Linked DNA regions of Homo sapiens: region 1 is linked to region 2. Evidence: fine-mapped expression QTL. A gene starts in region 2. The other region holds a variant in brackets. All regions are shown on one strand. Distances are between the middles of the regions. Region 1 overlaps HELZ2 (helicase with zinc finger 2). Region 2 holds the start of LINC00659 (long intergenic non-protein coding RNA 659).

Region 1 (2,896 bases), 780 kb after region 2:
CCAAGTAGCTGGGATTACAGGCGCCCGCCACCACGCCCAGCTAATTTTGTATTTTTAGTGGAGACGGGGTTTCACCATGTTGGCCAGGATGGTCTCGAACTCCTGACCTCAGGTGATCTGCCCGCCTCGGCTTCCCAAAGTGCTGGATTATGGGCGTGAGCCACCACGCCCGGCAGGATGCTGGCTTTTAGTTCATTTAAATAGAAAATAAACCTGAACTCCACAGACACCATCCAGAGTGATTACAGGTGGCGTCCAAAGGTCAAAGGGCAGCCTCCACAGGGTTTCCTTCCTGGTTCTGAGACTTCCCAGGGACAGCAGAACTTCCTTGCACTGGTCCCAAGGAAGCCCCTCTTGGCCACCCTGAGAGGTGTTCCTGTCCCCAGATGCCCAGGAGGAGCAAGAGTGTGGGGACCGGCCCTTGCCGTTCCTCCTCCAAGTCCACCCACTTCCTGCCCCAGGGAGATCCTGAGGCCAGGAGGCAGGCTGGCCCAGGCAGGCTGATGGCGGAGGGTGGTGGGGAGGGTGGGGGGGCCCTGGACTTTCCCTCCCAGTCCTGGCACCTTGCAGGTGGAGAGGGCTCTTCAGGAAGGCATAGTTGGCCTCCTGCAGACGCGCACCTGGCCGGCAGGCACGAGGGTCTGCTGAGCCTCGCAGAAGTCCAGGAGGCTACGCCAGAGGGGGCAGCAGCGCAGAAGGAGGTGGTCTCCTGTGAGGGTGGGAGTCAGATGGGAGTCAGTCAGGGTCAGGTGGGAGGAGTCAGGGTCAGGTGGGAGGAGTCAGGGTCAGGTGGGAGTCAGTCAGGGTCAGGTGGGAGGAGTCAGGGTCAGGTGGGAGGAGTCAGGGTCAGATGGGAGTCAGTCAGAGTCAGGTGGGAGGAGTCAGGGTCAGGTGGGAGGAGTCAGGGTCAGGTGGGAGGAGTCAGGGTCAGGTGGGAGGAGTCAGGGTCAGATGGGAGTCAGTCAGAGTCAGGTGGGAGGAGTCAGGGTCAGGTGGGAGGAGTCAGGGTCAGGTCGGAGTCAGGGTCAGGTGGGAGGAGTCAGGGTCAGGTGGGAGTCAGTCAGGGTCAGGTGGGAGGAGTCAGGGTCAGGTGGGAGGAGTCAGGGTCAGATGGGAGTCAGTCAGAGTCAGGTGGGAGGAGTCAGGGTCAGGTGGGAGGAGTCAGGGTCAGGTCGGAGTCAGGGTCAGGCAGGAGTCGGCAGCTCCCTAGCCCAGCCCTGGCCTCACCTGTGTTCCCACCCTGGAAGAGCCCAGCCCCGCCCTCACCGATCAGGCAGAGCCCCTCCTGGGCCCGCGTGACAGCCAC[A/G]TTCACTTGGTTGGGGTCCACAACGAAGCCCAGAAACTTCTTGAGCCAGCTCTTGGTGGGCCGCTGGTCCAGGTCGCTCTTGGCACAGGTGCGGACGGTGCTCACCAGCACATAGCGCCACTCGCTCCCTGCGGGATGGGAGGTGAGGCCCTGCTGCCGCTGCGCCCACCCTCCCGGCCCCACCCACGAGCCCCCAGCCTCACCCTGGCTCTTGGTGATGGAGGACACGGCCACCCCGGCGATGCCCTCTCGCCGAAGGGCCTTGCTGATCTCAGAGGCCTGCGCGTTGTAGGGCGTGAGGACGGCGATGTCCTGGGGCTCTACGGTCCTCCCCAGGGTCAGCTGCTTGGTGATACGGACCTGAGGAGCCGAGGGGGCAGGTGGAGCGGACCCTGGTGTCTCTCCTGCCCTCCTCCAGGAAGCCCTCCCTGACTCACAAGCACCAGACACTCACCACCTCAGCCACCTCCTCCAGAAAGCCCTCCCTGACTCACAGGCACCAGACACTCACCACCTCAGCCACCTCCTCCAGGTTGGCCTTGGAGTTCTCATTCCCTTCGTCCGTGGACACCAGCAGGCTCCGCTCGTGGCCCTGCACGTGGCCAAAGATGACAGGGCAGCTCTCCTTGCCAGCGTGGCCCAGGACACTGGGCGGCCTCCTCAGGCCCTGCCACGTCTTCAGCTTGCTCTTGTAGAACGCCACAGAGGGGAAGGCACAGATGCCCTCATGCTGCAGGCAAGGATGTGCGCTGGTCAGAGGCTGCCACGCGGGGTTGTGGCCCCCCAGGGGCTGCAGGTGGGCTGGGGGCTGAGTGGGGCGGGCTCACCATGCGGTACTGAGTGTCCAGCATATGTGCGTCCTCGTGGTACCGCTCGAACAGAGACCGGTCCAGACCCAGGTTTTGCAGCCGCTCATTCTTGACCACAGGCCGCAGCTGCTTGTGGTCTCCGAGAAGAACCACCTGGAGGAATAGGCAGGCCTGGCCCTGACACCCCTAGACCCAGAGGGACCCCAGCCCCACACGACACCCGCGTCTGCACACACAGGGCACCCCAGGTGGGAGACTGTGCCAGGGACGCCTGCTCATGCTGCCCACACCCCCCGCCGACCAACCTTCTCGGCCTGTGGGAACTGCACCAGGGGGATGAGGGTTTCAGGTTCCGTGGCCATGCCTGCCTCGTCAACAAGGATCTGCCTCACGTCCAGGATTTTGAGGCTGGCAGAGGCTGCACAGGAGCAGGTGCAGAGGATGACCTCATGCCGGTCCAGCTCGAACTTCCGAGCCTCCCACAAGACCTTCTTGTACCTGCCGGGGACACTGCTTGTCACCCCAGGGCCCCCATGCTGCAGGCAGCTCCACCCCCTGGCCCCTGCCACTTACCAGACCAGGTCCTCCCTGGAGAAGAGCTCCCCTCTCTGCAGCCGGGTGTCAAAGGCCTTGATTTCCGACGAGTAAGGGTTGGGGGCCTGCCGGATCCGGTGGTGCAGGGTGATGCTCCTGGGGGACAGGACACAGTGAGCCCTGTCCACGCAGGGCCATCACGGGGGCAGAGCTCAGTGAGACCCACCTACACAGGACTGTCTGGACA
Region 2 (2,896 bases):
TCCCACCCCATGGATCACGAGCCCACGCTGTGACCCTGAGTCCTGGACATGCGCAGAGGGAGGGTGTGCACGAGCCCGGGAGCTCCTGTCTCTGTCTTAAGAGTGGAGCATGTCTTAAGAGCTGGCATGAGGATCAGAGGGTCCCTTCAGTGCGGCCTTCTAGAAGAACTACAGCAACCAGGCCCTCGCAGGGGGGAGATGCACCTGCTGGGGCTAAGGAGCGAGTGAAGCCAGCCCCTGAGACACATGCTCCCAACCCCATCCTCACCTCCCAAGAGAGGGGGAGCCTCCTGTTAAGCATCCAAGTCCCAAGTCACCGGCCGGCATCGGCTGCAGCTCTCTGTGTGTGGAGACATCTCATTCTGGTGTCTTCTTTACACAGGTCAGCGCTCACAGGCTCGGCTGTGTCTCAAGACCCAATTCCTTCGAGTCACTGAGATGCCCAAGGACAAGGGCAACAGAGAGTGTGAAAAGCTGGAGTAGACAGGACAGAAAACAGGGTGCAGCGTCCCCCAGGTTGGCAGATAGCCCAGCCCCAGGGACCCCACAGCCATGGCAACCTGTGTGAATGAGCCCCAGGAGCAGGGCAGTACACGATCTGCGCGACTGTGCGGGGCAGCCCTGGGTCTCTGCCTCAGGGGAGAGATTGTGTCCTCGCCTTTTGTGGTTTCTAGAGGTTCCTGCCCTCCTTGGCTGCACGGCATCTCCCAGCCTCTCTCTCCCTTCCGTCGTCCCCTCTCCTCCTCTGACCCTGACCCTCCCAGTCCCTCTTAGAGGGGCTGTGATTAAACTGTGCCCACCCTGACCATCCAGAATAATCTCCCATCTCAAGGTCCTTAACAGCATGTGGAACTGCACTAGCCGCCCCAAGGCCCCCAAAAGGCAACCCTGGATTGGGCCCCCCAAGTTGCCTGGGATTCATGGCCACCACCCGGCTCGACGGCTCCAGACCGAAATGCACCCAGTTATAGAAACAGACAGTTGCCTCTTGAATGTGCACATGTGTGAGGAGAGTGTCACACCCGTCGAATTAAGGTGGACCCGCCATGAGTGGGGGCAATGCTGGCCAATGCCCACCTGCCCAGCACCCACAGCTCTCGGCCTGGGGCTCCCTCTGTCTCTGGAGCCCGCACTAAAGTGTGCGTCTCCATCCACGACTGGCAGGGCTTGGGGCATAGACATCCCGCTGCCTTGCCTGGAGGCGCCCCAGGCCTCCACTCCCACACTGTCTCAGGGCTCCCCGGGGCTCGGCTCTCCTTGCTCACAGTGGTCCGGGCTGGGGTTCCTTCTTGGTTGCATTTCCAGCTGTGTTCTTTCCTTCACTTTCTCACTCTCCCTTGCCTCAGGGTCTGCATCTGGGGGTCCACTGGGGAGGACTCAGCCTCTCCCGCGTCCTCCATCCCACACACCTGTCCCTGGGCAGCCACGGGGAACAGGAGCACAGGGGACAGCAGGCAGAGGGCAGCGCCCGGGCGAAGGGGACTTTCGCCCTTGCTTCATGCAGCCCTGGCACCCGCAGCAGGGTAAGACGAGATCCCAGAGGAGGAGTCTTGGCCGCAGAACTGCAGGGCCAAGGCACCAGCCGCTCGGGGGCCTGGAGAGCTCAGGTCACAAACTTGAAGTCAGCTGCCCAGGAAGCAGCCTCAGCTGGGGGTCACAGGCCAACTGGGCAGTGCCCTTGGCCACACCTGTGGAAGGAGGACAGAGGAGGGCAGGGCGGAGGAGGGAGGTGCTGGGCTGCAATGTCACCTCTACAGACCTCGGCTGATCCCAAGGGGGTCCACAGTGGATATGGTCCTTCAGGGGTGCCCTTGAAGGCAGGAAGGGGACAGGACTTTATACTGTTCCTCCCACCCCTTCGAGCAGTCACCAACTGCAGCCCAGATGAGGTCAACAGGTACAGAAAGGAGGGGGTGGGACAGGAAGGAGGGGCGGGACAGGAAGGAGGGGGCGGGACAGGAAGGAGGGGCAGGACAGGAAGGAGAGGGTGGGACAGGAAGGAGGGGCGGGACAGGAAGGAGGGGGCGGGACAGGAGGAGGAGATGGGAACAGGGAGGTGGAACGGGAAGGAGGAAATGGGACAGGAAGGAAGAGATGGGAGCAGGAAGGAGATAGGACTGGAAGGAGGAGATGGGACTGGAAGGAGGAAATGGGACAGGAAGGAGGAGATGAGGCAGGAAGGAGGAGATGAGGCAGGAAGGAGATGAGGCAGGAAGGAGGAGATGAGGCAGGAAGGAGGAGATGAGGCAGAAAGGAGGAGATGGGACGGAAAGGAGGGGATAGGACAGAAACGAGGGATCAGGGTCCTATTCTAATCTCCTGGGGGCATGATTGCAGGGGGTGACATGATTACTTCCAGCCAGCCCTACATGAGCCACCTCGTCCATGGAGTCAGCCCCGCCAGGGCAGCAGAGCCCTGGGTTCGCACAGGGAGCCAGGGTGGCGTGGGGCCTGCATTGCAGACTCCATTTGTCCACATCAATCACTTCTCTACGGCCCAAATCACCCTTAGTTGCCCAGTTCCTGCTCCGCGGCAGTCTGGCTCCTGCTGGCGCCCCAGCCATCTGTCTGCATTAGAGAATGATGCTTGCCAGGGCCTCAGGGAGGTGGCACGGATGGGCAACACTGTGCTCCCGGACCAGGTGACAGACACCACCTCATGCCCCATGGCATGGACCTCCACCTGTCTGATGGCTTTGCCCCAGCCTATCTGATGGCATGGTCCCTGGCCAGTCTATCTAATGGCGTGGTCCCCAGCATGTCTGATGGCGTGGTCCCCAGCCTGCCTGATGGCGTGGTCCCCAGCCTGTCTGATGGCATGGTCCCCGGCCTGTCTGATGGCGTGGTCCCCAGTCTGTCTGATGGCGTGGTCCCCGGCCTGTCTGATGGCGTGGTC

The links. PIP is the estimated chance that this variant, and not a neighbour inherited with it, causes the effect.
Region 1: its variant is the best candidate, but not a certain one, in a credible set for the expression of LINC00659 in naive CD8 T cells (Schmiedel 2018, PIP 0.54).

What each region holds. Positions count from the first base shown.
Region 1 is chr20:63,558,662-63,561,557 of GRCh38, forward strand. HELZ2 (helicase with zinc finger 2) reads right to left here. Exons shown (of 20, transcript NM_001037335.2): 14 at 2,689-2,805; 15 at 2,421-2,613; 16 at 2,134-2,268; 17 at 1,818-2,036; 18 at 1,510-1,666; 19 at 1,267-1,434; 20 at 1-709. The coding sequence ends at 585. Among named protein-coding and RNA genes, the nearest start is that of FNDC11, 6.0 kb to the left of the region's middle. The variant A/G (reference allele first, on the strand shown) is at 1,307.
Region 2 is chr20:62,775,047-62,777,942 of GRCh38, forward strand. LINC00659 (long intergenic non-protein coding RNA 659) reads right to left here and starts at 1,810. Exons shown (of 3, transcript NR_046225.1): 1 at 1,760-1,810; 2 at 269-340. RefSeq lists a silencer at 1,117-1,278.